Linked DNA regions of Homo sapiens: all the other regions are linked to region 1. Evidence: fine-mapped expression QTL. A gene starts in region 1. Each other region holds a variant in brackets. All regions are shown on one strand. Distances are between the middles of the regions. Region 1 holds the start of NIPAL1 (NIPA like domain containing 1). Region 2 holds the start of NFXL1 (nuclear transcription factor, X-box binding like 1). Region 3 overlaps TXK (TXK tyrosine kinase). Region 4 overlaps CORIN (corin, serine peptidase).

Region 1 (8,031 bases):
GCTAGGACAAATTGCTGCTATTTCAGAAGTACCAAGTATCAAACCAGAAAGGGCTTGATTTAGGAACCAAACCCAGGGCTGTTTTGGTAGGAAAAAAAACAAAGGCACAACCTTAGCTATCGGGTGGGACCTTAGCAGTGTGGGAGGACAGCCATTGCTTTCAGTTTGGCCTAACAAAAAGGGTGGTGTTATGTAAACAAAGCCCCTTTAGTAGTCAAAATCAAAAATCCTTCCTCTTTTTCCTTTTGCTGGCCATTTTCCTCCCCACCACACCATCTTTTTTTTTTTTTTTTTTTTTTTTTTTTTTTTTAGAATTTAGCCACTTCTCAGGCCTTCTTCCCCATAATTTGGAACTTTCCTTTGGATTTGATCAAGTTGGATAGAGTTGATCAAACCCTGATCAAGTTGGATAGAGTTGATCAAACCCAATGGGAAAAAGACCAAAACAACAATAAAAAACAGACAACAACAACAAAAAACAGTTAGGCAAAACAAACAATGGCACAATTTATATGATAACTGAGTGCTCTAATGGTAAGGAGAAATTAAGACCAGTTGGTCGTTAATCTTAACTTTAACCAAGACAAACCCCAATTCAGTTACTTACCTAGGGACGAGTCTCTGGCTATAGACTGCTCTCTACCATTCAAGAAGCAGGAAAAACAAAACAAAACAAAAAAAAAAACACTCCTTTTCCCTGTTGGAAGTGAGCCAAACTCCAACGTCATGGAAACAGAAAATTTGTCTTTCTTGATAGAAGCAAGTAAAACTCCAAAAAAGAGAAGTTGTACAGCAAAATAAACTTTAGATCTTGACCAAATTTGGGGAAATCAGGGATTCTCTGGAGGGGGTGCTCTCAGACCTCAGCAAATTGTCCTATTGGTTTGAGCTGTAAAATTAGCTCATGCTGGTACCAAGCACTGATAAGAGGTTTGCCAAAGGTCAGGGGCATCTCCACTCAGAATCCCTCTGTGGTTACCAAAATGTGAACCCCAAAAATTTGAGACAGGTCTCAGTGAATTTACAGTTTATTTTGCCAAGGTTGATAACACAACCCCATGACACAGCCTCAGGAGGTCCTGATGACATGTGCCCAAGGTGGTCAGAGCACAGTTGGGTTTTATACATTCTAGGGACACATGAGACATCAATCAACATATGCAAGATGAACATTGGTTCTGTCTGGAAAGACGGGACAACTCAAAGCAAAGGCAGGAATACTGGAACCAGGGACGGGGCTTTCCAGGTCATAGGTAGATAAGAGACAAATGGTTGCATTATTTTGAGTTTCTGACTAGCCTCTCCAAAGGAGGCGATCAGATATGTCAGTGAGCAGAGGTGTGAGTTTGAATAGAATGGGAGGCAGGTTGGCCCTAAGCAGTTCCAAGCTTCACTTTTCCCTTTAGCTTAGTGATTTGGGGGCTCCACTATTGATTTTCTTTCACAACTCAATAACCCAGGAATAATTAAGGGAAAGGCAAGATGGAGGATGAATTACTCAGCTTACTGTTAAAATTTTCTCAGTGATATAATTTTTGCAAAGGTGGTTTCTACTCCCCAGCTACCACCCCTCTTGTCTAGTCATCTTATTCCTTGCCCCAGAAACCACAGACCTCCCTACAATGTAGCAACTCAGGGGTTAACCTTGACACACCAGGAACCCTCCCAGACCTCCCCAAGCTCGAAAGACCTGTGGCCTTGTCCCTTGAGGCCCTAAGGCTCTACTAATCATTATTTATTTTGACCATCACCCCTGGGTCTAAGTGTCCTAGCACAAAGACCAATAAAACAGAAGTTGGCATTTTAGAGGGTCTCAGTTATTATCGCATTCTAATTTTTGAGTCAGAAGAGTAATTTTCCTAGAATCAAAGAATGGGCTAGTTGGAGATTTTTTTAATGCTCTTCTTTTAGTTAAACAAACAACATGATTTTGCGGGGGAATAAATATCCCCCAACTTTATGTCATTAAAGACAGTGTGTGGTACTATAACGGTATTCCCCAAAGTCATCTAGAAATTATCAATGAAGGAAAATACATATTATAAATTTCTGCTAGGCAACATTTAAACTGGAAAAGCAGTGGTCTTAAATGAGTTTAAATATTTTTTTTCTGAATTTTTTCTCTTTATTTTCAGAATTGAAAAGCAAGAACTACAACAAAATGCCTCTTACCTAAAGTAGACCTTAATATGCAACTGAAATTCAATAAAGATACATTTTTTAAAGTCTGTTTTGTTTTTTAATGTCCAATTACCAAATGGGTTAAGAGCACATACTTGAAGCCCAGCTTTCTTGGTTAGCATCTTGGTTCCACACTTACTGGTTATGTGTGCATAGGCCAGTTACTCAATCTTTGTGTGCCTCCATTTCCTCAGCTGTAAAGTGGGGGTAGTAGTATCTACCTTACAGGATTTTCATGAAGATTTATAAAGCAAATATTTACAAAGAGATTAGAATAGTGCTTGCCACATAGTAAATGCTATCCAAGTGTTTGTTAAATAAAAAATAAGCACCATAGATCACGTTTACCATCATTACTAATTTTTGATAAAGACAAAATTTTAAGTTGGAAATCCAAAGAAAACGTTTAAATAGAAGTCTAAGTTTTGGGCCGGGCTAGGTGGCTCACGCCTGTAATCCCAGCCCTTTGGGAGGCCGAGGTAGGCGGATCACGAGGTCAGGAGATTGAGAGCATGCTGGTTAACACGGTGAAACCCCATCTCTACTAAAAAAAAAAATACAAAAAATTAGCCGGGCGTGGTGGGGGGCGCCTGTAGTCCCAGCTACTCGGGAGGCTGAGGCAGGAGAATGGCGTGAACCCAGGAGGCGGAGCTTGCAGTGAGCCGAGATCGCGCCACTGCACTCCAGCCTGGGCGACAGAGCGAGACTCCGTCTCAAAAAAAACCAAACCAAGCCAAACAAACAAACAAGCAAACAAAAAGAAGTCTAAGTTTTAAGGCTTGTTATGGAAAATTGGCATAAATCTCCCTCGCTTTCAACTTTCACCTATTCCACTCTCCGTGGTGTTCCTTCTCTGCAAAGTCATCCATATGTATTATAAAAGTGGGTGCCTTGGACTGGTATGTTGACTAATTTGTTCTTAGCTCTTCTCTCATCCGCCTAAGAACAAGAAAAACAAGATTGAGGCCTCTGCTATGAAACTCTTAGGTAATAAAATTAATAGCACTGTTCATGCCTACTTAGAACAAAGGCTACCTGAGTACATGAGAATATTTTCCTCAGTGTTAAAATGCCAGAGCACAAAGGCACCCCAGTTCTCCCTGGTGAGGGTTTGAGCCCGAATTGTTCACTACCCCACCCCTCACCTTTTTTTTTCTTGAGACAGGGTCTCACTCTGTTGCCTGGACTAGAGTGCAGTGGTTCGATCATGTCTCACTGTAGCCTCCACCTCCTGGGCTCAAGTCATCCGTCCTCCCACCTCAGCCTCCTGAGTAGCTGAGACTACAGGAGTACACCACCACATCTGGCTAATTTTTGTAGAGACAGGGTTTCACCATGATGCCCAGGCTAGTCTCGAACTTGTGGACTCAAGAGAGCCACTCGCCTCAACCTCCCAAAGTGCTGTGATTACAGGGGTGAGCCACCCGCCAGCCCTGCCCACTCCTTGTTTTGTAAATACCTGCTATCAGGTCTTCCAACCTTGGTTTGGTTACTTAACCTCACTCTTTGCCTCTAATCCCTCATCTGTAAACTGAGCGTTAATAGACTGCTGTGAGATTTAATTAATACATAATGTGCCTGCATATGTATGGTATAACAAGGATATCATAAACATTAGTTATTAATAATTCGTGGAAATAAGTCTTTCCAGTTTTGGCATTGCTTTTCCCTTAAAGGTTTATTTCAAATACCCCTATGACCCAGAAAATGGGGCAGGGTAGGGGGAGTTGCCTGCTGGAGACAGAACGGAGAGTGGATGGATATAGCGGGCGTGGACGGACAGCGACAGAAGCTGATAACAGCACAGAAGGGCAAAGTCTGCTCAGCAGCCCCCAAAATAAACTTGAGCCTGGCAATCGGCGCAGAACCCCAGCAGTCAGCAGCTTCGGTGCAAAGCAACTAACACCTGAAGGCTTCCAAAAGCAGCAGGGCTCTCTCTAGCGGGGGAGCCTTTTCGACCAGAGAGGAGCCAGAAGGGGGCCTCAGTGCAGCCTCCACTCCACTCAATTCCCGGAGTTACCTTGGCGGGCTCCACGCTCCGAGAGACGCTGTTGCTCTATGAGGCGTGTCTGTGTTTCTCTAGTTCGCGGCTCCAGCAGTCGCGCCAAGGGGCAGCTGCTACTCCTGCCAGATACACCAGTTATCACAGGCCGCTCCCAGGCCTGCGGGGGCCCTGAGAATTCGCAACAAGCCCCGGGCAGCAGGGCTCGGCTGGCGCTGAGGCCCCGCCTGGCCATGCCCATTGGCGGAGGCTGCCCCGGGGGCGGGGTCAGGGCGCCCCATTCCCAGACCCCGCAGCCCCGCCCGCCGCGGGTGCGTGTGGAGAGGCCCAGGTGAGGAGCAAGCGCCCGCGTTCCGGAAGCCCGCTCCCGGGGCCATGGGGGCACAGGTGAGGCTGCCGCCCGGAGAGCCCTGCCGAGAAGGTTTGTGTCTGCCCTGAGCCGAGGGACCTGGCAGCTGGGTGGCGAAGAGACCGGGTGGGCGGTCCCCGGACACTTGCGGAGACTGGAAAGGGGGGCTGTACCGACTCTAAACGTAGTCGTTCACTCATTCATTCATTCAGTCAGTCGGCCGTCCAGCCAGGCGTTCAACACTTATTTATGGGTGCCTAGGCGATTCGGGCTGTGCTGGAAAACCTGAGTGGAATAAGGCAGGTGGGACTCCCACTCGATTCGCGAGGCCGACCAGTGTAAATTACCGCGTGCTGCGTGTGGGACGGGGAAACTCAGGATGCTATGGGAAGAATCCCGAGTCCCTCTGAGAAGGACGTTTCCTCTGACTCAGGCTCCCTTCCAGAGTCTGCGGCCGACGTCACCCGGTGGGCAGAGGGCGTGTCTGCCTGGGGGGCCCGTGGGAGTTCTGCGCTGCGCCCTGCGCTGGCTCCCGGGGATCGAGCACCGCGAGAGGTTGGGCGCCCGGGGCCGCGGGGGTGGGCGTTGGGCAAGTCTGGGCCGCCCACGTCTCTCCTCTTCCTTGGAAATGAAAAGGTCTCCAAACCCATGAGCCTGTCTGACTCGCTGTGCAGTCACTCTGGCTGCTTAAGGCGAGAGCCGTACTGGAGAGGAAACCTGGAACCGGGAGCACTCGTTTGCAGGCTCTTCTTACTGCTTCTCACCTGAGCCCCGTGAAATCTCTGGGCGAGGCTCCTTGCCCTTCGCCAAGTGTTCGCAACACTGGCGGGTTTTCTGCAGTCTCCATACAGAAGGCCCCGATAAAAGTAGGGAAGGGGGTAGGGGGAGCGACTGGAAGGATGTAGATACATTGAAATGATGGTTTTCGCCGTACCAAGGGGAAAGCAGCTTTTTAATTTACCTGATAATGCAGTAAAGGGGAAGGGAGGCAGTGAAAGGCATGGTAAGAACTACTATATATATACACATATATATATAGTTCCCTTACACATATATATATATATATATGTATATACATATACACCTTTGCAAAGGTGCTCGCAACTTCCCTAGTTTCCTCTCCTCTTGACTCTTCCAGCTTATTCCTTTTTAACAAGTGAGCTCGTCCAAACCATGCTAGCAAGGAAGAGAAGGGACACCAAAAAAAGGAGAAAAATGCCTGAACAATTCACAAGCTATTAAAAAAAATTTTTTAAGGCCGCTGGATCTAGAATTATTTTCTAGTCTTTTTTTCTGAAAAAGAGCAATAACGCCTGAACAACTCACAAACTATTAAAAAACAAAAATTTTAAGGCAGCTGAATCTAGAATTATTTCCTAGAGAGTCAGGTTGTGTGCCCTTTTTCTAAATAATTTCTAACCCAGCAAATCTGACAGTTACTAACACACCCACACTTGTTTACCCAAGGATCTGTAAGTAAGGAAGGTATATGAATTACACCCACTTGTTTGAGCTTCTGGATGTTTTTCCTGCTTTGCTTATGCATTGAGTTCCAACAAGAAACATTTAAGCTCCAGGCTTAATACCTGTGATTAACCATGGTAATTAATTGTGTGAAAAGCTGGTGAGAAAGACTTAGAAATCTGAATGCACGTTATTAGTAGTGGGAAGAGATTAGGCTTTGGCATCAGACAGTCTGAGCTGTAACTTAGCTTCCTTGAGCATTTTCCTGTCTATAAATTGGGGGTCATCCCTCCAGTTTACAGTTCTGAAGAGTAGGTGCAGGTGGGATTACATATGAACTACACCACTCAGAGCTTGACATGGAGTAAACAAAGACTCAATTTTTCACTTGTTCATTCAAATAACAAGAGTCCCATGTGCCAAGCACTGGCATAGGTGCTGGGATAGAGGGATCTGCAAGACAGTCTGGTCCCAGACTCTAGGACTAGGTTCCTGCTCTCAGGCACCTTACTGTTCAGATGGCAGCTACTATGCAAGAAACAAAGTAATTTAAAAGATCATTATAATAGCAGTAATGTATCAAGAGTGTTGGGATGTTTAGATTGGGTATTCAATGAAAGCCCCTTACGAAAGTGATATTCAAGCTGAGACCCAAATGACAAGGGGTCAGTCATGAGATCTGAAGATAGAACATTCCAGTTGAACTTCCATGAAGAAAAAGTTAATTTCATACTTTGGTTTTGACTTTTTTTTGTTTTTTTGAGGCGGAGTGCCACTCCGTCACCCAGGATGGCATGCAGTGGTGCAATTTCAGCTCACTGCAACTTCCACCTGGGTTCAAGCAATTCTCCTGCCTCAGCCTCTCAAGTAGCTGGGAATACAGGCACATGCCACCATGCCCAGCTAATTTTTGTATTTTTAATACGGGTTTCACTGTGTTGACCAGGCTGGTCTTGAACTCCTGACTTCAAGTGATACTCCTACCTTGGCATCCCAAAGTGCTGGGTTTACAGGCATGAGCCATCCCCCACCCCACATTGGTTTTGACTTTTAAAGCTATAGATGCTTCAAAAGAGTCTCTAATCCAAAATTATCTTTAAAAGAAACAAATGCAAATATGTATGAAGGTTGTTATAAAGCTGTAATTAAGCCATATGAGGAAGTCTATTTGATTGGGAACATATGATGGAAAGTGACTGAGAGGTTCCTTTAGATTGGGAAGGCAGGAAAGGCCTCTCTGAGTTGCTTAGTCCTCTCACTCAGAAGAAGCTAGCTATGCCAGCCAGCACTCTGTAACAGGCTCAGGAACAGCTGCTTTTTAAAAAGCTTAAGGTGAGAAGGAACTTATTCTATGAAAGGAACAGAAGAAAAGGCAATAGTAGGGAATGAGGTTAGGCAGCTGGAGACAGGATTCCACAGGGCCTTATAGGCTATAGTGGGAATTTTGGATTTTTTTCGGAATGAGAAGGGAAGCCCTTGTGGAGTTTTGGAAGGAGGAATGACAAGATCAGACCTACTTGTCTAAAGGTTCATTTCACCTGATCCTTCTCCCACCTACTCTTTAGCCACATCTCATACCATCTCCCTTTCTGTCACCCCAGGCAACCTGGCTGACTGCAGTTTCTTCAACCCCTCAGGGTTTCTGCTTTTAGACTTAGCAGAGAGGCTCTTTTGTTTAATCCTGTTTTAAAAAATATATTCCTTGATGCTGCTTTTACTACTTGCTATGGCACTCTTAACATACGTATAGTTATTTGTTTGTTAATCCTATCTGCCCCCACTGGAATATAAGAGAGCGGGACCATTGTTGTATTCATTTTTCTATCTCCAGATTCTAGAAAATGCCCAACAGGTAGTACACCATACATATTTGTTGAATGAAGGAAAAGAAGATTAGTGTTTCAGAGAGGGGTGAGAGGGAGAGTAATGCAATATGATGTCAGAGACGAGCCAGTTTCAGAGCATGAGAAGCTTTAAAGTTCAAAGTTAGTGAGGAGTTGAGATTTTGTTGTAAGTTGAGATGAAAAACCATGAC
Region 2 (8,132 bases), 100 kb before region 1:
ATCACAACCAGAAAAAACTTGCCCCAGTCCACCGCTCAGGAGCTTTAGCAGCCCCATCCAAGCATTCTACTGAAATGCCAATTAAATACACACAAAGGCCTCCTAAGGCTATAAAAGAGCCACTGCCATTCTATTTGCTTTATAGAAAAATTAGTGTTACACAATATATAACTCAAATACCAAAGTGTACAAAAATTCAACTCTATAACATACAGTGCTCATCTTAAGATATAAAATCTATTCCATATAGAACAAAGGCATTACCAAAAAAATGTCAGGAATACAGTTTCATTGACGTCAAAAGTCAAAATTTAAAAGATCAGTACCTGTCTGAGTAGTGTATGTTATAAACGTATTTGCAAGTATTTTTCCCTGTTTTCCTTCAAAATCTTCATCTCCTTCTTCAGATGAAGAGCTAAACTGTTCTTCAACAAGTTTTCTGGCTGCAGCTTGGTTAGCTTTCTTGATTTCTTCAAATTTTTTCTGAGACATTAGCTCTGTTTAAAAGAAAAAAGTTTCATTTCTGCAAAACAATCTCTCAAAAAGAAAAGCATAATGTGCTAATATATCATTTTACAACACACATTTGAAAGTCACCTTTGGAGCATTCTACCTTCCTGTAATCCACGAGAAAAGTATTTTCAAATTCCTTGACACACAACTAAAGAGAATACCACAACAAAAACTTTCACTTTTCTAAGTATCCTGCTAAAATGCAGCAAATTTTTATGATAACGGTGATTAACAAATCAAGAAAAAAAATATGAAAATACAATAAAACTATCAAAATACTGGTGATCAACTTCAAAATAAGGACTAACAAAAATTAAGATGTTTTAAAGTACATTGTGCACAGTAATTTTTAAGAAGTGAGGGAACATGTCCACAGTGAGCACATAAAGAATCAGGGAAGGTAGGTATTTCAAACTACCGTCTTCTGAACAACAGGTAGGATAGGACACGACGGCCCAGCCCAGTCCAGTCCAGCCCTACCAAAGAGTTTGTACCAACAGTACTCACTATGCACCCACTATATTTACAATCGGCTTCTTAGGTCAAGAACTTTTTGCCTTTATTATGGACTTCTTGTGGTCACACAAAAAAACATATTTTACATTAATCCACACAAAGTATTAACATGGAAAACATGTTTCTTCCAACTTCATTCCAAAAAGAATGTTAATTTTGGATTCGTTCTTCCACTATTCAGCACTACCTGTACTTCTCATTTTGTTACTTGATTAATCATGCAAAACAAAACCAGATTACTTCACTGCACATACTCCCAAAGAAACTTCAAACTTCTTGAGAGCAAGGACCACAGGGATTTTCTTCAAGCACTAAGTGTTAATAAGCTCTTACGGACAGCAAACATAGTTTAAGAAAGGAGCCACAAACCTGCAGAACTGATCTGAGTTCATGAATTCCCATCTTGAGAGGATTTTAAATTTACTGATTGACTATTTTAAAATTAACATTATACTTAAAACTGATAAGCCACTACCAAGATAAGCTCTCTTATCTTGGGTGGTATATTCGTACTTGATTATGTTCCCTCATGAAACATTTTCCTTTTCTTATTGCAGCCAGTTTGGTTAGGGGTTATTAACAAAACAAATTGAGTATTTCAAGTAAACCTCGACGAAAATGTGTATCATGCTTACCTAGCAAGCTTTGAGTACTGGGAAAAAAGAACTGGCTATGAGATATATAACTCAAAACTTGTCACAAAAGAGATGATAAATGTCATTAATATACGGGAAATTAGCACTTAAAAGATACATAAGAAAACAGGCTGAACTGGACAGAGATAATGAGAACATTCATAACCTGATAAATGTATTCACCTAACATCATCTCAAAGTAAAGAGAAGCTGACAAGACAACCTTCTCACGTATTATTTCTTACAGCCAAATCTCAACTGTCCAGGTAGAGAATGCTTGTTTTCTTTTTCTTTTCTTTCTTTTTTTTTTTTTTTTGAGACGGAGTCTTGCTCTGTCGCCCAGGCTGGAGTGCAGTGGGGCAATCTCGGCTACTGCAAGCTCCGCCTCCCGGGCTCACGCCATTCTCCTTCCTCAGCCTCCCGAGTAGCTGGGACTACAGGCGCCTGCCACCCCGCCCGGCTAATTTTTTGTATTTTTAGTAGAGACGGGGTTTCACCCTGTTAGCCAGGATGGTCTCCATCTCCTGACCTCATGATCTGCCCGCCTCGGCCTCCCAAAGTGCTGGGATTACAGGCTTGAGCCACCGCGCCCGGACAGAATGCTTGTTTTCCTTCTACCCACGAGATGGAGACCATCCTGGCTAACACGGTGAAACCCCGTCTCTACTAAAAAAAAAAAACCAAAGAACAAAAAACAAAACATTAGCCAGGCGTGGTGGCAGGCGCCTGTAGTCCCAGCTACTCGGGAGGCTGAGGCCGGAGAACGGCCTGAACCCAGGAGGCAGAGCTTGCAGTGAGCCGAGATTGCGCCACTGCACTCCAGCCTGGGCGACCAGCGAGACTCTGTCTCAAAAAAAAAAAAAAAAAAAAAAAGTTTACCAAACCTGTTCACACGTCTCCATATTGTATACCTTATCATCACGGCCATTAACTGCATGCTAAGAGAATACCACCTACCTTTCAAATTAGCCTAGGAGAAAAATCATTCAAGATACTCAATTCTGCTCCACACCCCCCAAAAAAATGTATCCTGAAATGCATTCCAAACACAAAAATAAAATGATTTCAGGGATTATTCCCTCGGCCCCATGCACAATTGTGTGTAAGTCCTCCCTGGCTCCACGAAAACATGGTCTTGGATGAAAAGTATTGATATATCGGAGGCAACACCAGATATGTCCACAGAAGGACATGGAATTTGTAAATAGGAACTACAGTCAAGGAAGGTATCAAAAGCTCAAGTGCTTACAAGGAATAAGACAAGTCAAGAAACAAAGGCAAAGGTAAAGATGACAAATGACACCTGGCTCCAGAAATGAGAGAGAATGTGAGATGGAATGCCCAAGTCCAATCTAAATGGGATTTCTGTGACTCAGCCGAGCTGACTGTTGCCATGCACAAAGATAACTAAAGCCACAAGGTTGTTAACCAGATTTTTAAAAACGACAAACAACCGCTGACAATCAATCCACATTTAAAACTCTGTGTTAACCAAACAACATTATAGACCAAATCAGAACACCGGGCCACAATTTACAACTGATGGTCTGGAGATTCAAGTAGGCAAGAGTGGAGGGAAGTAACAAAGGTAATACCACCTAAAATTAAGATGAAAGAGGTGCGATGGAAATCTACCTAGAGTGCCGAAAAGAGCAGCCACCCGAAAGGCTGGAGAAGTGGGCCCGATAACAAACTCCCGAACGAGGGGAAAAGCAGTGAAAGAAAGAAGGCGAGGGCGGAGGCGGTCCTGACTAGTAACTGCCTTAGGAGGCATCCAGGTGAGCACGCGGGCGGGAGCCATTCTCACCGCTGGCTGCGGTAGTCTGCAGGGCTTGGGATCCTGCGGGGCTGTGCCTGCTCCCTGCAGCCGCCGTGGTCGCGACTCCTCCGGGACTGGTGCCAGAAGGAACTGCGCCCACCGACCCCTTCTCTCGCCCTCCTCCGGCGCCGCGGAGATGGACTCCATTTCCTGAGGGGGCGGCAGTGGCCCGTCCCCGGGATCGGCCTCGGCCACCGGCCACCTGGCGCCAGGAAGCTTCCATCCCTGCAAAGGAGAAAAAAAAAAAAAAGAGTGGAAGGAGGTGAGCGCAGCGAGGACCGAGGCGAAGGAGGGTCAGTGCGGAAACCCGGTGTGAGGGGCCGAGTGAGGAAGGTTCCTGCAGGGCGGCGACCGGGTTTTAGGAGGTCGCGGCCCTGCCTTTACCGGAGGGCGAGTCCCCGCCAAGCCCGGGCTTTGGAGATGGACCGAAGAGGGGAGGGAGGACTAGGTACAGAAATAAACCGCGGAGCAAGAAGCACACAGTGCCGAAGACAGAAAGCCGGAGGAGAAGTCGAAACCGCCTCCTCAGCCTCTGCGGGAGCGTGGTAGGGGAAGAGTCACAGACTGACCCTGCGTCTCCCGCCGGGAACCAACTGCAGTGGTACACCCCACGGAAAGCTACGTCTCCTTACCGACTGCGCACGCCCCCAACAGACTACAACTCCCAGAAGCCCCCGCCCGCGTTCCGGCGACTGCGTGGCAGCACGGGCCGCTTCCTTATCCGGTAAAGTGCGGGGGTTGGGTGGGAGGGAAACCCCAAGCGCCTGCGCTGGCCCGAACAGGCCTTTGGGAACTACAACTCCCGGCGTGCTCTGGGGCTAGGGAGGGGTCGAAGGTCATAGGGGCGCGTGGTGGTGGAGGCGGGCGGGTCCGGAGGGTTTCGTGACCCCACAATTTGCTTCTGCTTCTGCAAGACTGCCCTAAACTCACCTGGGTATGAGGATTACATGGCTCTGTCCCTAATTGGCTCTCTGCCATCTTTTATTAGCCTTGCCTTTGAGCTTGCGGATGACAGGAGGTGTCAATGTAAAATAATCAAAAGCGCGAAGTTTGAGGATAGCCTACCTAGAAACACCGACTCCAAGGAAGGAGTCAGCGTTCCGAAGTAGAGATTTAAGATTTCACTTATATAGGCAGAAACTGAGAGGTTTTTTAGCAGGATTACAGCATTTTCTCATACAAGGTTAGAGAATAGTTACAACAATTTGATTATAGACAGTGTTTCTTTTTGGGAAGTGTACATTTAACATTTTTCATAAAGGATTTTCTGTCATCTGGTCTAAGCAAACCGGGGCAACAAAGCAGAAGTTAATCTATAAGGATCATTAAGAAGGCAGGAAGTTTTTGTCCTTAACTTCGTTTAATTCTCTCTAGCCATTGTATAGAACAAGAAAAATAAGAAAGCAAGTTAATCTATAATCTGAGAAACAGAAGTTGTAACCACGTGTAACTCAGATGACAGTCACATCTCTCTCC[A/G]GGCTTAGTGAGTTTTAGGCTCCAACAACCTTTAAACTATTTATTTTCATAGGGAAGTCTCACTAACAGGAAAGGCACTTACATTGAAAACGCTTTGAGGTTGGCCACTGTGAAGGAGGGAAATTCGGGGGAGAGTTGCAGGAAAGTGGCTTGAGTAGTAAAAGTACCCTTCTAAAATGCTAGAGCCAATGTAGAAAATAAATCTAAAGCCTGTTATTGTCATAGTCCTTTGTAGTGTGCAATGAGCTTTCCCTGGGACATGCTAATTTTTACCTTCACAGCATCTCCCTAAAGTAGATTTTGTTAAGGAAAATAGTTGAGGGCCAGGACCTAAATCTTATGATTTTGCTGAGTTTTCCAATAAGATACATGTGCATATATACTGACAGGTAGATTGCAAAAATTCATTCTGGGGTCTGTCTGGGATTGAGAAACATATTGATGGCTTATTGTACAGTCCTTCAACTTAGTTAATTCTTCTATTTTAACCATAAATTTCTATTATAATATTTAGATAGCATTTATTAGATGTCAGGCACTGTTTAAAGTGTTTTACGTTATGTATTAACTAATTTGGTACTCACAGTAACCGTGTTTATTATCCCCGTTTTACAACTGAGAACACTGAGGCACAGAGAGATTAAGCAATTTGCCCTTGATCATACAGCTAGGAAGTAGTGAAGCCAAGATTCAATCCTAAGTAGTCTAGTATTAGAAACCATGCTTTTAATGTCTTAAACATAGATATTGCAGAATTGCCTGTACATTAACCAAACTCAAAAATGACATCCCATGGCCAGGCATGGTGGCTCACGCCTGTAATCCTAGTACTTTGGGATGCCAAGGCGGGTGGATCACCTTAGGTCAGGAGTTTGAGGCAAGCCTGGCCAACATGGCGAAACCCTGTCTCTATTAAACATACAAAAATTAGCTGGGCATGGTGGTGGGTGCCTATAATCACAGCTACTAGGGAGGCTGAGGCAGGAGAATTGTTTGAACCCAGGGGGCGGAGGTTGTAATGAGCCAAGATCGCGCCACTTCACTCCAGCCTGGGCAAAAGAGCAAAACTCCGTCTCAGAAAAATGAAAAGAAGAAAAGAAATAACATCTCTGAGAATGATATAACTTCATTGGCTAGAAACTAACAGGTGCACAGCAACTCTCTTAATGCTGCACTTGTATAAGAACTGTAAGTTTAAAGCTGCAACCAGCTTTCAAAGTTTGAAAACCCTAAAGTGAGACTTTTCTTCAGTGGGGTTTTCACATACAGGAAAGGAGCTGTTATACTCTGAGAGAGAATATAGTAATTATCACTGAGTAATGTCCAAGAAGTATTGAGTGGCTACTAAAAAGAGAGATCCTTCTTAGAATTATGTTATATGCCAGAGAGCTGGACTAGCATATTATCTAAATTTCCATGTCAAACTTTATTGAGAAATTTTTTCTGTTCCCTCAAATATTCAATAGCTAATAACAGTGACCAGCAATCCTTGAGTGCTTTCTATGTGCCAGCATTCTTCTAGGTCCTTTTTTCTTTTACTCATCTAATCTTCACAATAACCATGAAGTAGGTATTGTTATCGTCAAAACAATTTTTTTTTATTATACTTTAAGTTCTAGGGTACGTGTGCACAATGTGCAAGTTTCTTACATAGGTATACATGTGCAATGTTGGTTGGCTGCACACATCAACTTGTCATTTACATTAGGTATTTCTCCTAAAGCTATCCCTCCACCAGCCCCCCACCCTGCAACAGGCCCTTGTGTGCGATGTTCCCCTCCATGTGTCCATGTGTTCTCAGTGTTCAACTCCCACTTATGAGTGAGAACATGTGGTGTTTGGTCTTCTGTCCTTGTGATATTTTGCTGAGAATGATGGTTTCCAGCTTCATCCATGTCCCTGCAAAGGACATGAACTCATCCTTTTTTATGGCTGCATAGTATTCCATGGTGTATATATGGCACATTTTCTTTATCCAGTCTATTATTGATGGACATTTGGGTTGGTTCTAAGTCTTTGCTATTGTGAATAGTGCCTCAGTAAACATGCCTGTGCATGTATCTTTATAGTAGCATGATTTATAATCCTTTGGGTATATACCCAGTAATGGGATTGCTGGGTCAAATGGTATTTCTAGTTCTAGATCCTTGAGGAATCGCCACACTGTCTTCCACAATGGTTGAAATCATTTACACTCCCAAGAACAGTGTGAAAGCATTCCTATTTCTCCACATCTTCTCCAGCATCTGTTGTTTCCTGACTTTTTAATGATTGCCATTCTAACTGGCGTGAGATGGTATCTCATTGTGGTTTTGATTTGCATTTCTCTGATAACCAGTGATGATGAGCATTTTTTCATATGTCTGCTGGCTGCATAAATGTCTTCTTTTGAGAAGCGTCTATCCATATATTTTGCCCACTTTTTGATGGGGTTGTTTTTTCTTGTACTTTTGTTTAAGTTCTTTGTAGATTCTGGATATTAGCCCTTTGTCAGATGGATAGATTGCAAAAATTTTCACCCATTCTGTAGGTTGCCTGTTCACTCTGATGATAGTTTATTTTGCTGTGCAGAAGCTCTTTAGTTTAATTAGATCCCATGTGTCTATTTTGGCCTTTGTTGCCATTGCTTTTGGTGTTTTAGTTATGAAGTCTTTGCCCGTGCCTGTGTCCTGAATTGCATTGTCTAGGTATTCTTTTAGGGTTTTTATGGTTTTAGGTCTTACATTTAAGTCTTTAATCCATCTTGAGTTAATCTTTGTGTAAGGTGTAAGGAAGGAATCCAGTTTCAATTTTCTATATATGGCTAGCCAGTTTTCCCAGCACCATTTATTAAATAGGGAATCCTTTCCCCATTTCTTGTTTTTGTCAGGTTTGTCAAAGATCAGATGGTTGTAGATGTGTGGTGTTGTTTCTGAGGCCTCTGTTCTGTTCTATTGGTCTATCTCTCTGTTTTGGTACCAATGCCATGCTGTTTTGATTACTGTAGCCTTGTAGTATAGTTTGAAGTCTGGTAGCCTGATGCCTCCAGCTTTGTTCTTTTTGCTTAGGATTGTCTTGGCTATGTGGGCTCTTTTTTGGTTCCATATGAACTTTAAAGTAGTTTTTTCCAATTCTGTGAGGAAAGTCAGTGGTAGCTTGATGGGGATAGCATTGAATCTATAAATTACCTTAGG
Region 3 (8,132 bases), 56 kb after region 1:
GATCACTCAGAGACCAGCTCTGGAACTTGCTGGCAGAGACCTGAATCCAGGCTGGCTCTTCACAAAAAGGAAGAGAAAGATATCTTGACTGACTGACATAGCACAGCATGATTGGCAGTTGAGTGAGGCGTGAATATGAAAATGTTAGAGAATGTTGCAAAAATAAAACGGCTAGACCTGCAAACACTAGCCACATGTGGCTATTTAAATTTAAATTCCTTAAGATTATATAAATGTTTAAATTCAGTTACTCAGTCGTGCTAGCCACTTTTCAAGAACCCAATAGCCAGAAGTGGCTGCCATATTGGGCAGCACAGATATAGAACGTTTCAGCATCTCAGAAAGTACTCTAGGACACCACGACCCTAGAGATATATTTGAATGACTTGACATGTGTGAGGTAAAGAAAGGGCTGGGAGAAGGGGCATCTAGCATACCAGGCTCCCAAGCTCAGTTCAGGGTATCTATGACACCTGAGCCATTATAGAAAGGAGGATTTCAGTCAGAAAGCAAAAGGCATGTTTTCATGAGGGACTTTGAAGGTCTTGGGGCACAGGTTGTGCTTTCAGTCTCAGTCAACAGAAAAATAAGAGTGTGGAAGTCCCTCTCACACATAGAAAAATGATTGCTGAATATTCTTACATTTTAAAAAGTTTTAAAAGCCTGTGATCTTTGCACAGTTTTTGAGTCAGCAACTCTAAAGGAAGATATTCACCATAAGTGACCCCATATCCCTGGTCATGGAGCCAAGGATTGGAGCATTTTTTCCTACTTCACTTAGGGGTGTGGTTTAGCTCTGATTCCAAGAGGAAGAAGAGATGGCACTGTCAGCATCTTTTAAAACCATGGGAAACAGAGCTACTCATAGTAGCCACATTCTCACAGGGGTCATTGACAGTAGGGTCAGCGGAAAGACACCCCTCTTCATGGCTTATAAACAGAGAGCATCAGTAAAATAAACAGAGCAGAAGACAGCACAAGTGCAAGTGAGGGTCCTTATTGAGACTCTGGGCATAAATTGTGGAGCTCTGTGAGGAGCCTGTTTCTGCGCATGAATCCTGAAATTTGTCTCTCAAAGATAGCATAATCACGTTTGACTCTAATGCCCTAAGCACATGGGGTAAAGCTGTAGGCAATATCAACTTTTGCACCTGACATAATGACTCACATCTGTAATCCCAGCACTTTGGGAGGCCAAGGTAGGAGGACTGCTTGAGGCCTGGGCAACAAAGTGAGACCCCATCTCTAGAAAAAATTTTAAAAAATTAGCTGGTCATGGTGGCACATCACTGTAGTCCCAGCTATTCAGGAGGCTGAGCTGGGCGGATTGCGTAAGCCCAGGAGGTCAAGGCTGCAGTGAGATGTGATTGTGCCACTGCACTGTAGTCTGGGAAACAGAGCAAGACTCTGTCTCAAAAATAAATCAATCTTTTCTTTTCTTTTTTTTTTTTTTTTTTTGAGACAGTCTGGCCCAGTCACCCAGGCTGGAGTGCAATGGTGGGATCTTGGCTCACTGCAACCTCTGCCTCCCAGGTTCAAACAATTCTCCTGCCTCAGCCTCCTGAGTAGCTGGGATTACAGGTGCCCGCCACCATGCCCAGCTAATTTTTTTGTATTTTTAGTAGAGACGGGGTTTCACCATGTTAGCCAGGCTGGTCTCGAACTCCCAGCCTCGTGATTCGCCCACCTCAGCCTCCCAAAGTGCTGGGATTACAAGCATGAGCCACCACACCCGGCCAAATCAACTTTTTCAAACAAATAAATCGACATAACCACACCATTGTATTAATCAATGTTCTGATTGCAATTTGAGACAAATGTTGTTTACATGGTCCTTCTGACAGCATCCTACTTATCACTTCCCTTCCTCCTTCTATGTCTCAGTTCCACTTACATATAACATCTCAATAAGCATTATATTACACACACACGTGTGTATTATTTCATACACAACATATACTTCTGAGCTACTTACATTGTTATTGCAAAGATGCTCCTAAAACGGCTGCTTATTACTACTCACTGAACATTTTTCTGAACATTTTTTTCTTACAGCTTGCTGAGCATTTTTCTATGTCTTTCAAGATTCCTTGTAAAGTAGTTAATATATGTAAAATATTTTCATACATTGGGGCTCTCTATAAATGTAATGCTTTTGGAATATGAATAACCACATCACTCTTAAAATATTCAATATTCTAGTGTTTGTGGATTGATAATCAAGTGCTTTATTTTTTCAGCCAGGAGGAAACTTCTCATCAAGCTGCAATTTCCAGCTGAAACTGTCAGCTGGAAAGAGACCAAAGCTCTCAAAATCAAAGGGAATTTCACTGAGAAGGGCAGGGGTGTGTTGAGTCAGTGCCCAGAGGTGGAAAAGAAGCCCCTCTGGCTTTATTTCTAAGCTTGGCATTTCAACAAATAGAAAAACTAAGTTCTGGAGAGATTTCTTCCTGAGTGGAAGTTCCTGACACACTTTCTGCCTCCATTCCTATTCTAGTTTAATCTGTAGCAGGAGTCCTGACTGCCAGAAGACAGATGAAACCCATTACTATTAGCGTTGGAAAAGCAAGACAAAGCAAAGTTGAGTGAAGTAAATGGAAACACCATCTTTCTTTTTCAACCTGGAAATTTAACAAGCCTGGTTCTACCCTTAGTTTCCACCATTAATTCTTTTATTTATTTGCTTATTTATTTATTTATTTATTTTTTGAGACAGAGTCTTGTTCTGTTGTCCAGGCTGGAGTGTAGTGGCGCAATCTCAGCTCACTGTAGCCTTTGCCTCCTGGGTTCGAGCAATTCTCCTATCTCCGCCTCCCAAGTAGCTGGAATTACAGGCATGCACCACCAGGCCTGGCTAATTTTTGTATTTTTAGTAGAGACAGGGTTTCACCATGTTGGCCAGGCTGGTCTCAAACTCCTGACCTCAAGTGATCTGGCCACCTCGGCCTCCCAAAGTGCTGGGGTTACAGGCGTGAGCCACCACACACAGCCTCCATCATTTAATTCTTTTTTTTTTTTTTTTTTTTTTTGAGATGGAGTCTCACTCTGTCGCCCAGGCTGGAGTGCAGTGGCGCCATCTCGGCTCACTGCAAGCTCCGCCTCCCAGGTTCAAGATTCTTCTCCTGCTTCAGCATCCCCAGTAGCTGGGATTACAGGCATGCACCACCACGCCCGGCTAATTTTTGTATTTTTAGTAGAGATGGGGTTTTACCACGTTGGCTGGGCTGGTCTCAAACTCCTGACCTCAGGTGATCCACCCGCCTCGGCCTCCCAAAGTGCTGAGATTACAGGCATGAGTCACTGCGCCCGGCCCATTAATTCTTAAAGCTAATAAAACATCTAATCACTGAGGCTTGAGTAACACCAAGAGTTTCTGCAAGAACCAATCTCAAACA[G/C]ATAAGACTCAGAAAATGCACTGAATTCCTCAGATAAAAGGCCATTGTTCAAAACAAAATGGATTCATGACTTTGTAGTGAGTTTGAGATAGTACTTCAGACTCTCAGGATCATGACCAAGACACAGATGCCTTTTCCTGCCATGACAGAGTTCTGAAGTAATGTTTGTGATAATCAGGTCTGCTCTCAGATGCTGGGACTGCCAACCTTCATAGGAAAGTAACATATGCTTACCTCATGCCAGCAGCTGTACATGACTTCATATATGGACATTGGTGCCAGGTGAGGGCGATATAGCCTGAAGCCTTCAGAAATAGCTTCCACGACTTGCAAATTTGACTTATTTTCAAAAGGCATTTTTCCTTCTGTAAAAACTTCCCACATTAAAACTCCTGCAAACAAAAATGCAGGAAAACAAGGGGTTAGAGAGAAATGATTGCTTGGGAACTGAAAGAACAATTTCAAACTACAAGGCATTATTTTTGTGCTCCAGGCTTTGGGCTATAACCATCCTGAATAACAGCGGTTCTGTCAAGGAAGCAAATCATGTTCACTTTAGTTTTCAAAGAGGCCTGTAACCTGAAAATAATCTAAGTGAAAACAATGCCTTTCCTTGTCCATGGGTCTTGATTGCCTCTCCTATCAGGAGAAAATGCCAGTAGCATTTTCTTTTCTTTTTTTTTTTTTTTGAGACAGGGTCTCGCTCTGTCGCCCGGGCTGGAGTGCAGTGGCATGATCTCAGCTCACTGCAACCTCTGTCTACCGGGCTGGAGTGCAGTGGCATGATCTCAGCTCACTGCAACCTCTGTCTCCCGGGTTCAAGCAATTCTTCTGCTTCAGCCTCCTGAGTTGCTGGGATTATAGGTGCCCACCACCACGCCCAACTAATTTTTCTATTTTTAGTAGAGGCGGGGTTTCACCATGTTGGCCAGGCTGGTCTCGAGCTCTGACCTCAGGTGATTCGACCACCTCAGCCTCCCAAAGTGCTGGAATTACAAACGTAAGCCATCACGCCCGGCCTAGCATTTTCATTTCTAAGCAGCAGTCACGTTCCTGCATCCTGAAATCAATGAACCTTTCTGCCATTCCATAGAAACTGACAGGATTATGTGAGCCTCTGCTGCCTACTTAGCCAAGAGTTTCAGCCAGTAAATGGCATGTGTCCCCTTCTTTCTGCTAAAAGATTAGACTGATGGGCAGAGCCCCAGAATATCTAGCAGGGGCTCTGTACATAAGTAGATGTCCAATAATCATTGATTGATTGATTAGTGAAACTCCTGCAAGAACTCCTAATTTGAGTTCATTTAATTATTCACTTATTCTACAAATATTTACTAGACATTGATGAGAGGCGAGGCCTCTGCTGGGGCCTGGAGATTTTATAAGTGTGAGATCAATCCATGTGCCTAAGGAGCTCACTGTTCAGTGAGGGAGACAAGTAGGTAAAATTCAGGGAGTTCTAATTGTTTGGCAACCTTCGATGAGGTCGTTATATTGCTCTTCATTGGTCTCTAAGATGTGGTCTCACAACCTAATTGCTCTTCAGTAGAGCTTCAAGTGTCACCTGCTGAGACTATCATATGTCCATGGAGAGCTAATGAGATTAATGACACAAGCTTAACTTTATTGTATGTTTTTAAATTTATGTTTTAATTTTTTTGAGGCAGGGTCTTGCTCTGTCATCCAGGCTGGAGTACAGTGGCACGATCCTAGCTTACTATAACCTCAAACTCCTGGGCTCAAGCAATCCTCCTGCCTCAGCCTCCCGAGGAACTGGGACTACAGGTATATGCCACCACACCTGGCTAATTTTTTTTTTTTTTTTGTAAAGACAGAGTCTTGCTAGGTTGCCCAGGCTAGTCTTGAACTCCTGGTCTCAAACAATCCTCCCACTTCAGCCTCCCAAAGTGCTGGAATTGTAGGCCTGAGCCACTGTGCCCAGTTTTAACCTTATTGTAGACAATAAAACTGACACCCTTCTGAGGACCCAGAACCCACAAGCCTCCAGGAAGTTTGGGGTGAAAGAGGATAGATAGATTTTTGCATATTTATTACCATTTTTTGAAAATCAACCCCGAAACTTCATTGGACGTGGGTCTATGGTGTCTCTTTCTCAATGAAGAACATTATCCAATATGAATATCAATTTATAGATCCCAAGGAAGCCTATGTCTAAATTCCACAAACTTTAAAGTTAAGGAAGTAAATGAGATGCCACCATTTTTTAAACTCAGGTTTTAAGTTCAGGTTAACAACTGAACAACTGGAAAATAGTCAACCTGCTTCACAGTTTAGACAATTAAGTTTATTAATTACACTCTAAACAATGTCATAAGATCATTTTTCCTTCAAGCCTCTGCGGAGTGGAAAACTTATCTGAGTTTGTTTTCTAGATCAGTAGACTCTTTGTTATGGTTTTATAGTGAGTGCCCATGGAGGAAGGAAAAGATCCAAAAGGCAGACTTATGTAAGAAGGTATGTGACACCAGTTGCCAAAGACAGTCGGGATGTGGTTAGAACACACAGAAGGAAGCACAATTACAAGAAGACTTTTTAAAAAATGCTATATCAATTAGGAAATCAAAGTTAAAAATAACACATTGCCCATTTTATTAAATCAAGCTCCAGCAAGTGAACATCAGATGCACTCACCAAATGACCAGACATCAGATTTACTGCTGTACTTATTGAAAAGAAAAACTTCAGGAGGGGACCACTTGATTGGGAACTTGGCTCCAAAAGAACTGACATACTCATCATCCAAAACGTACCTAAGTTTATCAGATTCAAAGCATATTGTGTTAATTACCTCCAAGCTCTATTTACTTCAAATCCCTTTAGTTAACTCTAAGTTGCTAAAAGACAAAGTATTTTACCCCAGAAAGGTTGTGGATGCCTTCTTGTTAGTAGAGTGTGAAAGTGTCCCTGATAATGTTTCCTCCCCAAACAAAGTCTCAATTGTATTTGTTTTACGTGGACCTCTGAAAATCATAATGCTGCTTCAGTTCAAAACATGGCTCACTGTTTATGTTAATTATGGTAAATTCTTAACTCTACAAAGAAGCCTGCTAAAGGCTCTAACAACCAAGATTATAAAAAGGAAATAAAAGACCACTCTTCCCAGGGGTGGGGAAAACAAAGACCACTCTTCTTAAAATGGAAATGAATGATTCAAAGTTGGATGTCGAATTTTCTTCCATGTGCATGTTTTTTTGTGGGGCATACAGAAGGGGGGAAAGTAAAAGTATATGAACATAATGCTTCTGATATGACAAATCTCTAATGCACTAGAATGGCCCTATATGGAAAGAAACCAAGAATAACTACCGTCTCCTTAAAAAAATAACAAGTTGAACCCTCTCTCTTTTTTGAGAATTGTACACCGGGATGTCCAAATGTCAGACACTGAGGAGAAGAGACAAAAATAAACTTGTGCTTGTTGCCCCTTAAATATACAATATAGTGTTTTCACAGCATTTATTAATGCTGCCCCTATACTCTCACTTTTTTTTTAAATACACTACCTCCCTCCACCTGTCAGCACTTTATTGAGTCAGAGGTCATTCTACTTAGGTAAAGAATGACTAACAGAAAACAAAGAGAGAAAAGCCACTGTTTATAGATTTTGAATTTTTCAAGTCTAGGCTCTTCAGAGAAGAAAGATTGAGTTATTAACAAAATATCTTGGAAAATGGGCCATGAACAGGAGTGAGATCTCACTACCACCACCCCTATTACCACCACTATCTAGAAAAAGATCCCCTGAGCTTTGGGGGGATCTTTTTCCCCCAAAAAGAGGAATGGGGGAAATAGAAGGGAAAGAAAAGGGGGGTACTAGACATTAGTAGATCAGTGGGTTAGGGTCCTGTATCTTGTACCCTAAAGGGCTGCCCAAGTACTTTAGGAAAGAAGCTCCTACTCCCACATTAGGTTGGTGGGATTTAAAAGTGACACAGAACCAGTGCTCTTTTCCCCAGGTGGAGCCCTTGGAAAGGCAGAAAGATGCCAGTGAACAAATGGCTGTGGATGTGCCTAGGTAAATGAGATCTGAGATCACACCATGGAGTTTTGTAATCATAAAGAACGCCGGCCAGGTGAGACTGCTCACACCTGTAATCACAGCACTTTTGGAGGTGAGGTGGGTGGATATTTGATGTCAGGAGTTCAAGACCAGCCTGGCCAACATGGTGAAACCCCGCCTCTACCAAAAATAAAAAATTAGCTGGGCGTGGTGGCATGTGCCTGTAGTTCCAGCTACTCGGGGGGCTGAGGCAGGAGGATAGCTTGAGCCTGGGAGGTCGAGGCTGCAGTGAGCCGAGAGAGCACCACTGCACTCCAGCCTGGGTGACAGAGTAAGACTCTGTCGAAAAAAAAAATTGCCAGTTCTGAATGAATCTTGCAGAAAAAATTCAGTACGTGTTAGCAGCTACCTGTTTGAATGGCCAGCCAAAGACAAGACCGGAGGATGGTGGCTGCAATGATGCCATGCACACAGATAACAAAAGGACCAGTAAGCCACCTCACTACCAGTACTATAGCCCCACGAGACACAAGAACTTGGACTTTGAAGCTTAGGGAAGCTAGAGAGAAACCCCAAATTCCCTGTGATTATATTTCTAGCACCACCCCAAAAAAGGATGCTCAAAATTTAAACTATATTGAGTTGTAGAAAAATATGGTTAAATTTTTCACACTCTTGAATTTTAGACTTAAAGTCAACTACTATACTTAATAATA
Region 4 (8,132 bases), 190 kb before region 1:
GCTTTATCATCATGTATTCCTTCTTCTTGGGGTGAAGTAGGAACACAACTCAATAAAACTTTTGCAAATGCAAAGGCTAAAAAGGCAATTCAAAGGCCTGTGCATTAAACATCCTGTCTCTACAGAATGTTTATCTCAGGAGGTCAAAAAATATCTGGAATGGTTTGAAAAACATAGTTCAGTCTTACTTTCAGAAAAAGTGTTGACTAAACTACTAAATTAGAGGAAGACATAAGTTTCCTTAAGAGAAGGGTTGAGTTTTGAGCAGGTAGGCTGAGCAGATAAGAAGGAAAAAGTGAGACTCTGAAGGTCTGTGTGGATAGATATAGACGAGCAAGGAGTTGCACCCAGGTCTAATACGCTTAAAGAGTTTATTGGAAAGAGAGAGATGCTTCTGATAACTACTAGACAATAAAGTATGGCTGGAACCCAAAGAAATCAAACAGAGGAAGAAAGACAAGTTCTCAGAAAACAAATGAATTGTCTGTCCCCAAAAGGTCAAGGATGTGATAAATTACTAAAAGGCAGTTTTTTAAAAGCTGCAGATAGACATTTGATTGTAAAAACAACTGAGGAACCATGCCTAAAAGATTGGACAACTGGTCAGACAAGGTGGCTCACACCTGTAATCCCAGCACTTTGGGAGGCCAAGGAATGTGGATCACTTGAGCTCAGGAGTTTTCAAGACTACCCTGGGCAACATGGCAAAAACTCGTCTCTAACAAAAATGCAAAAATTAGCCAGACGTGGTGGTGCACTCCTGTGGTCCCAGCTACCTGGGAGGCTGAGGTGGGAGGATCACTGGAGCCCAGGAAGTCAAGGCTGCAGTGAAATGTAATCATACCACTGCACTCCAGCCTAAGTGACAGAGAAAGATTCTGTCAAAAACAGAAAAAAAAAAAAAAAAAAGATTGGACAACTATGCCAAGCAGCTTTTGAAAATCTGGATATATTGAACAGGGTAAGATCTGGAAAATCAACATAAAATTATCCAATAATTCTTACGTATCAAGTTTCAGCCTGACACAGTTATTATAGGTGAGTACATAAGTACTGTGTGTGTAATATAATAGAAAATTTATGGAATTAGGAAAAAGAGAAGACATAGCAAAAATGAAAAATATTTAAAAGGGAGCTGGGCAACCCATAATAGATTGAGTCCAAGCCTAGGTTAGATGCGGATTTGAGAGGAGAACACCTTCTGGGTAGGAATTAGCCAACTCAGGAGGATAATGGTAGACAAGATTTACTTGAACATGAAAGCATTCAGCAGACCCAAAATCTACTCATATTTCTCACTATGGGAGACTTCACAAAGGAAGTCTAGAAGAGCAAGTTGGCAAAGATCATGGCCAGAAGACAAAGAGAAACTAAAAGCAAACTGAGCAAAAATTACTGAACCTACAGAAAATATAGATAGGAAATGACTAAATTAAGAAGGAAGTTAAACTCTTGCAAACTCAACAGGGCCTTCCTAGAGGAAGAGGGGACAGAGACAAAAATAGCCAGGGAAAGACAATCTCTTTACGAGGAGTAATAAAGGCTAATATGAGGAACCAACCATTCCTATGCAAAAAAGCAGGAGACAGAAGCAGCGAGAGACATGAAGGGAATCAGAGTCTCCCAAAAATGGGAAGGATAACGGGAGAGGAGAAATGATCCCATTAGCCTTAACTGGATAAGGGTTTCACAAGATCCTGATTCAGAATCAGAGATCAGAGGCATCCTGCATCTCATCTGTGTACCTTGATGCCCATAATTCCATTAATTCCCACCAGCCTTCTACCTCCAAATTCTACCTCCAAATTCTAGTCCCTGCTTTCCTGCCCTTAGGATCTGTGAGACATCAAATAAGCCAAAGATAAAATCCCCTTCGTCAGTTTAGCCAGTTCTAAGAGGTTTTCATAACCTATAATCATCAGAATGCTACCAAATACAGAATGCTCCCAATAATTTTATAGACCATCCAGGGGGATCCTAATTGAAACTGCTATTACAATCCTGAAGCCAGACAAGCAGCCCCATCTCCCAGGGTTTGGGAAATGTCCGGAGTATAAAAGTGCCTGACTCCGGAAAGTGTCACTTTCCTCCCCTCCCGACACATTCTTCTTTCAAATGGAACCATCCATGGTTTCAACTATTGTTCATGCCAGTTTAAATACATAGTGGCAGTCAAAAGAAAGAGAGAGGAATTTCTAGGAGCAAGAAAAGAAAGGGAAACTGAAAGCCAGAACAGTAAAAGTTGAGGCTAAGACATCCTGGAAATTAGGGTTAGAGGGAAATAATGAGGGTGAGGGGAGAAATTTTCTTGGACGTCAGACTAGGAGCTTGGGTCTGGGGTTTGAATGCCAAGAAAGAGACCTGAGAAAAGGCCTAGGTTAGGAGCTGGAAATGAGAACCTCAAATAAATCCAGGACTTTCACAATGCTACACTGTCAGTGAAAAGGAAGTTAGAAAGCTCCACTTAGCCCAAGGAAAGGACTAAAAAAGAGCATCCCTGTAAAAGTGAAAACAATAAAAAGCTCTTATGAGAAATGAAAAATTTGCTGTACAAATTTACATTGTACAGCAAGTGTAGAATTCCCAAGCTGTGAAATTAATATAAAAGTAGATCTCAGACTGGTAATTCTACTAGGGTGCCTATCAGAAGCAAACCAAAACCACTCTGCACTTCCGAAACTGCCCCCTGCCCGAAAAATGAGCTCACAATAAAAAATGTAAAACACATGAGAAAGTGATCTGATAAACTGTGCTAAGAGGTAGAAATAGAATATAGACAAGTCAGTAGTCCCTGTCCTTATGGAATACACGAACTATCAAGGGAAAAATAGAGTCAATTGTTACACAAATATTCATTTAATTACTATTGTGATTAATGCTATAGATTGAGTCATACTTTTTATGATTAAAAAATGCTATAGAAAGTACAGCATAAATAATTTATGGCAATGTGAAAAATGAACTCATGGCTGGGTGTGGTGGCTCACGCCTGTCATCCCAGCTCTTTGGGAGGATGAGGCAGGCGGATCATGAGGTTAGGAGTTCAAGCCCAGCCTGGCCAATATGGTGAAATCCCGTCTCTGCTAAAAATACAAAAATTAGCCAGATGTGGTGACGTGTGCTTGTAGTACCAGCTGCTCGGGAGGCTGAGGCAGAAGAATCGCTTGAACCCGGGAGGCAGAGGTTTCAGTGAGCCAAGATCATGCCACTGCACTCCAGCCTAGACGACAGAGCGAGACCCCATCTCAAAAAAAAAACAAAATGAACTTACAAACTGACCTCAACCTTTTTATTAAAATATGTTCAATTTAACTACAACAGAGAGCAGTCTCATGTTGAAAATACTTCAATGATTAGGAATATTAATTAATATTTATTATAGGTACTTATATATATATAATATTAGAATTATTATTTCAGTCATAATCAAATAATTTACCTTCCCCGCTTCTTTCCACTGATGGTTTTAAATATTTTAAATAATAT[G/T]TTAATACATACTTATAAAAAAAACTGTCTGAATGTTTAATATTTATGATCGGAGTTCAAGGTATTAAGAATTATGTAACATTTTCTAAAATTATAAGAAGTTGATAAAAAGAAAAGAAGGCTTTTGAGAGTGTAGATCCCATTGTTCCATCCATCACATTTTTAAATTTTGTTTTGACGTCTTTCCACAGTTGGTATTCCCAAGCAAGAAAATATTTTTTAAATGATTGTCTCATTTCTTCCCAGCGCTAAAGTTATCTGTACTTTGAGACAAAACCAAACATAGAAATGATAAATGTTTTAAACTATGTATATTATAGATGCACCTAATTTGCTTATGAAAAGACAAACCTCCAGATCCAAATGAGAACAGACTAAACTAATTTAAAAGAGTTCTATAAATGTTTAATACTTGCCTAGCTTTCATGTATCAACTTTTATCCTTTTCAAAGGAAACACAATTAAGAATTGTGGATGTGAATTAAGGGATTATAAATAATCCTATTTTCAATTGAAGAAGTTAGGGGAAAGATATTTCATTTAAGATTAAGTTGTATATTAACAGTATACTAAATTGTTCACTACTTTCAAAAAGAAAAAATGTCCATGACTACAAATAAAGTTTGTCTTAGGGTAGATTTTTTAAAAATGCAAAAGTGAAATATCTCCTGAAATTATTAAACAAAATGTATTTACTTTTTTCCTTTTTAAAAAATTTAAAACACACATGTTTACAGAAGAGTTGAAGGTACAGTATAAGGAACTGACCCATTTTCTTCTGACTTTTCTTCTGACCCGTTTGATACTCAGTTGCTAACCAGATGCCTCACTGCTCCAGAATATATTAATGGATATTTCCTATAAACAAGGACATTCTCCTGCCTAAACACAACACAGCCATTAAAATGAGAAGATTACATTGATATATTGCAACCACCTAATTCTCAGACCCCACTGGTTTTTCCATTAGTCTCAATAATACCCCTTCTACCAAAAGGATCTAATTTAGAATCACAATTACATTTGGTTTTCACGTCTCTTTAGTCTTCTTCAGTCTTCTCTTATCTTTTATGACTTTCACAGTTTTGTAAATTACAGGCCAGTTGTTTTGTAGAATGTTCCTCAGTTGTGGTTTAGGATTAAATTCAGACATCTTTGGGAGAAATAACACAAAAGTGATGTTGCATTTTTCTCATTGAATCCTATCAATTTGTCCTTTTATTGATGACAGTCATATCCAACACATGATACTGTTGGGATGGGTCAAGCCTCCCCATTGTAACATTATTTTGTGGAGAGGTACTTTGAAACCATGTTAATATACCATCTCTTCAAACTTTCCATTTCTTTTTTTTTTTTTTGAGAGGGAGTCTCGCTCTGATGCCAGGCTGGAGTGCAGTGGTGCGATATCGGCTCACTGCAACCTCCACCTCCCGGGTTCAAGCGATTCTCCTGTCTCAGCCTCCCAAGTACCTGGGACTACAGGCGCGTGCCAACATGCCCGGCTAATTTCTGTATTTTTAGTAGAGACGGGCTTCACCATATTGGCCAGGATGGTCTCAATCTCTTGACCTCATGATCTGTCCGCCTCGGCCTCCCAAAGTGCTGGGATTACAGGCGTGAGCCACCGTACCCGGCCCCATTTCTTTTTTTATTCGCTTACATAAGCATGGACTACTGTTTTCCTATTTCATTCAATGGTTTATAATTTGTTACTATCATAATTTACTTAGATCCTCAATTTGCCCTCCATTTGGCCAATGGAAGTTCATTAAAGCTGGCTGCTGTGTCCTTGTGACATGCCCCATCATTCTTTGAGCACTTCCTTGCTTTTTGGAACAAGATGCTTTGAATTCATCTGCTACTAGCCTTGCATCACCCTTGGAATCAGCCATTTCTCCAAGGATCCTGGTTCCTTTTTGTAGAAAATGACATTTAAAAAACAAGATCTGAGGGCCCCTTGGTATGCATATGATGTGCTCATTGTTCCTGGGGTGGTGTTGTTCCCAGTTTCTCTCAGCAGAAAGAGCTATATGGAAAAATGTATTTATATTGTGTGTGCATTCACATATGTACACATACACATAGGCCTCTGTATTTATTTCTATATCTATCTTTACACATTGAAAACCAGATATTTATACACATATCTCCAGTTTCAATCCCATATCACAGAGGTCCAGATCTACTATACTTTCTATACTTTTAACCCCTTTTCCAACAGGGAGAAAGCTGGTTTATTGTTAATACATTTAATTGCTTGATCAATCCCCCAGTCTGTAACTAATTTCCCATGTCCCAGCCCCAGCTGCCATGTGGGCGCCATGCTCACCCTGTCCCAGACGCCGTGCTCATTCTGCCCTGGCTCTCCTATGCATGGACACCTTCCTCCTCCTACTCAGACCCTGAACCCCATCTTAGGTTGACCTCCACACACACCATCCTTACCCTGCTTAGGCACCAACATACTCTGCTGGCCACCTGTCCTTGTTGATGTGGCTGACGTGCTGCTGTCCCTCCCCACACTTTAGAACCCACCTTACTCTGTCCACTGAACCATTCAGGACTCAGTTGTTCACCAAGGAGCAAGGAATAGGAAAATCCAAAGTTTTGAAATCTATGGAAAGCAATCAATGCTATTCCTTTTTTTTTTTTTTTTACTCCTTTTTTCTCCTAAAGCATATATAAAGGAGAATAACAATACAAGAGCATTTTTAGGAGTGGCTGACATGAAATGATTTGAGAATATTGTTAGGAATATATGTTTCTTATTCAAAGAGCATTTTTGTTCCTCTTATTTGCATTCAGTTAATAGAGGTAGTGTTAAACAACAACAGAAAAAAAAAAAAAAAAATACACACACAGTGCTACCAGGAGGCCAAACAGGTAAGCTGAGCTTGTCATAAAACAACTCGGACCACTGACCAAGGCACACCCAGGTGAGATCTTGCAGGTCCTTTGTTGGGGCCACTTCACGTTCTCACCAGGATGCCTTAGGAAAAGCTTTTCTTTCTTTCTTTTTTTGCTTTGTAGAGACAGAGTCTCAGTATGTTGCCCAGGCTGGTCTTAAACTCCTGGCCTCAAGCAATCCTCTCCCTTCAGCCTCCCAAAGTGCTGGGATTACAGCCATGAGCCACCATGCCCCAGGTTCACCTTCTTTGTTTTAATTTCAAACAGGATGGAAACTCAATTCTATTGTTATGATTCTATTGTTCTGCAGAAGAGGGCAGAATAAAAAGCACCACAGGCCAGATTAGAGCTGTGTATCCAAGTCTAGATTTTGAATTCAAAAAACCACAAAGGCCAAGGGGAAAGAGAACGCTAAACTCTCAAGTTTGTCCTAACCTCTTTAGGGAATGAAACTGGACACAGCCAGACAGTCCTTCAGTCATTCCTAGCTTGAAAGATCCCTCCCCACTCTGCCTTGCTTACCCAACGTGGGCAGCTGAGTGTGACAGCTTTGAGGGGCCTCCCCAGGGCTATTTTTAACCTGGTGTTATCTGCTTACAGACTTTCCACCAGGGCAGCCGCAGGTCCAGGGAGTCACTCCACCTGGGAAATGTGAGCACACCGCTGGCCTGTGGCAAATGAGGTATTTTTAACTGAGACTTGAGAAGCTCAGAATTGTCATCTGCTTCAGGCCTCAGGGTGCGAGACACAAAACAGAGCCAAGCAAGAGAGGCTGTGTGCGGACTCTCCAGTTCCTTAGCAACCAATTGCTGGGCTTGTTGCTGGAGGAGGGCTCTGTAAGTGTCCGGATCAGCGATGGAAAGCCAGCCTCAGAGTCTTTCCTGGCAATTATGTGGCCCCCTCCCCATAGAAGTGAGGCCTGGGAGTCCCCCTTGCAGGCGAGGTATTCTGCCGGGCTTTCCCACACCACACCTATCTGCGGCTAATTAGCATCACCTGGGACTTGTTAGACACATGAATTCTTGGGTCTCAACCCAGACCTGTTAAATTAGAAACTGACAATGGGACCCAGCGATCCATGTTGGATCAGACCCTCCAGGTAATTCTCATGCACACTAAAGTTCTAGGATCACTGGCCTAATCACACATTCGCTAACATTCATAGATAAAGACGTAAGAGTAACACTTGAATCCCACCAAGCCCACATTGCAGTAATTCTTTTAAATGAATAACTTTTAGAACATTTTTACACTTACCAGAAAAAAAAAGTGAGCAGATAGTAAAAATCACCAGTAACTTTTTCAAACCACTGCTTTTTTTTTTTTTTTTTTTTTTAGATGGAGTCTCACTCTGTCACCCAGGCTGGAGTGCAGTGGCGTGATCTCGGCTCACTGCAACCTCTGCCTCCCAGGCTCAAATGATTCTGCTGCCTCAGCCTGCCAACTAGCTTACTAGATTACAGGTGCCCACCACCATGTCTGGTCAATTTTTGTATTTTTAGTAGAGACAGGGATTCACCGTGTTGTCCGGACTGGTCTCGAACTCCTGACCTCAGCAATCTGCCAGCCTCATCCTCCCAAAGTGCTAGGATTACAGGTGTGAGCCACTGAATCCAGCCAACCATTGCTTTTTTCTGCTGCTCACTGTACCCTAATAAGAAAACCTCCTTCCTCTGTTCGTCCTTAAAGGCAGTGATAAGACACCAACTGAGTTTTTGCCATCAAAGGCGGCAATT

Evidence for each region.
Region 2: its variant is fine-mapped to the expression of NIPAL1 in whole blood (TOPMed, PIP above 0.99).
Region 3: its variant is fine-mapped to the expression of NIPAL1 in testis (GTEx, PIP above 0.99). The same link has a PIP of 0.9 or more in adrenal gland.
Region 4: its variant is fine-mapped to the expression of NIPAL1 in blood mononuclear cells (TOPMed, PIP 0.91).

The regions. Positions count from the first base shown.
Region 1 is chr4:48,012,282-48,020,312 of GRCh38, forward strand. It overlaps NIPAL1 (NIPA like domain containing 1), which reads left to right and starts at 4,491. Exons shown (of 6, transcript NM_207330.3): 1 at 4,491-4,604. The coding sequence starts at 4,559. It overlaps CNGA1 (cyclic nucleotide gated channel subunit alpha 1), which reads right to left and starts at 4,400. Exons shown (of 11, transcript NM_001379270.1): 1 at 4,202-4,400. RefSeq lists enhancers at 1-236, 4,081-4,582 and silencers at 4,347-4,676, 4,967-5,126.
Region 2 is chr4:47,910,498-47,918,629 of GRCh38, forward strand. It overlaps NFXL1 (nuclear transcription factor, X-box binding like 1), which reads right to left and starts at 4,086. Exons shown (of 23, transcript NM_001278624.2): 1 at 3,868-4,086; 2 at 3,472-3,708; 3 at 327-497. The coding sequence starts at 3,706. It overlaps LOC101927157 (a long non-coding RNA gene), which reads left to right and starts at 3,730. Exons shown (of 3, transcript NR_125879.1): 1 at 3,730-4,207. RefSeq lists enhancers at 2,954-3,640, 3,641-4,326, 3,837-4,066. The variant A/G (reference allele first, on the strand shown) is at 4,960.
Region 3 is chr4:48,067,888-48,076,019 of GRCh38, forward strand. It overlaps TXK (TXK tyrosine kinase), which reads right to left. Exons shown (of 15, transcript NM_003328.3): 13 at 6,048-6,166; 14 at 3,630-3,787. Among named protein-coding and RNA genes, the nearest start is that of NIPAL1, 55 kb to the left of the region's middle. The variant G/C (reference allele first, on the strand shown) is at 3,396.
Region 4 is chr4:47,817,988-47,826,119 of GRCh38, forward strand. All of the region lies in intron 1 of CORIN (corin, serine peptidase), which reads right to left. Among named protein-coding and RNA genes, the nearest start is that of CORIN, 16 kb to the right of the region's middle. RefSeq lists an enhancer at 6,462-8,048. The variant G/T (reference allele first, on the strand shown) is at 3,487.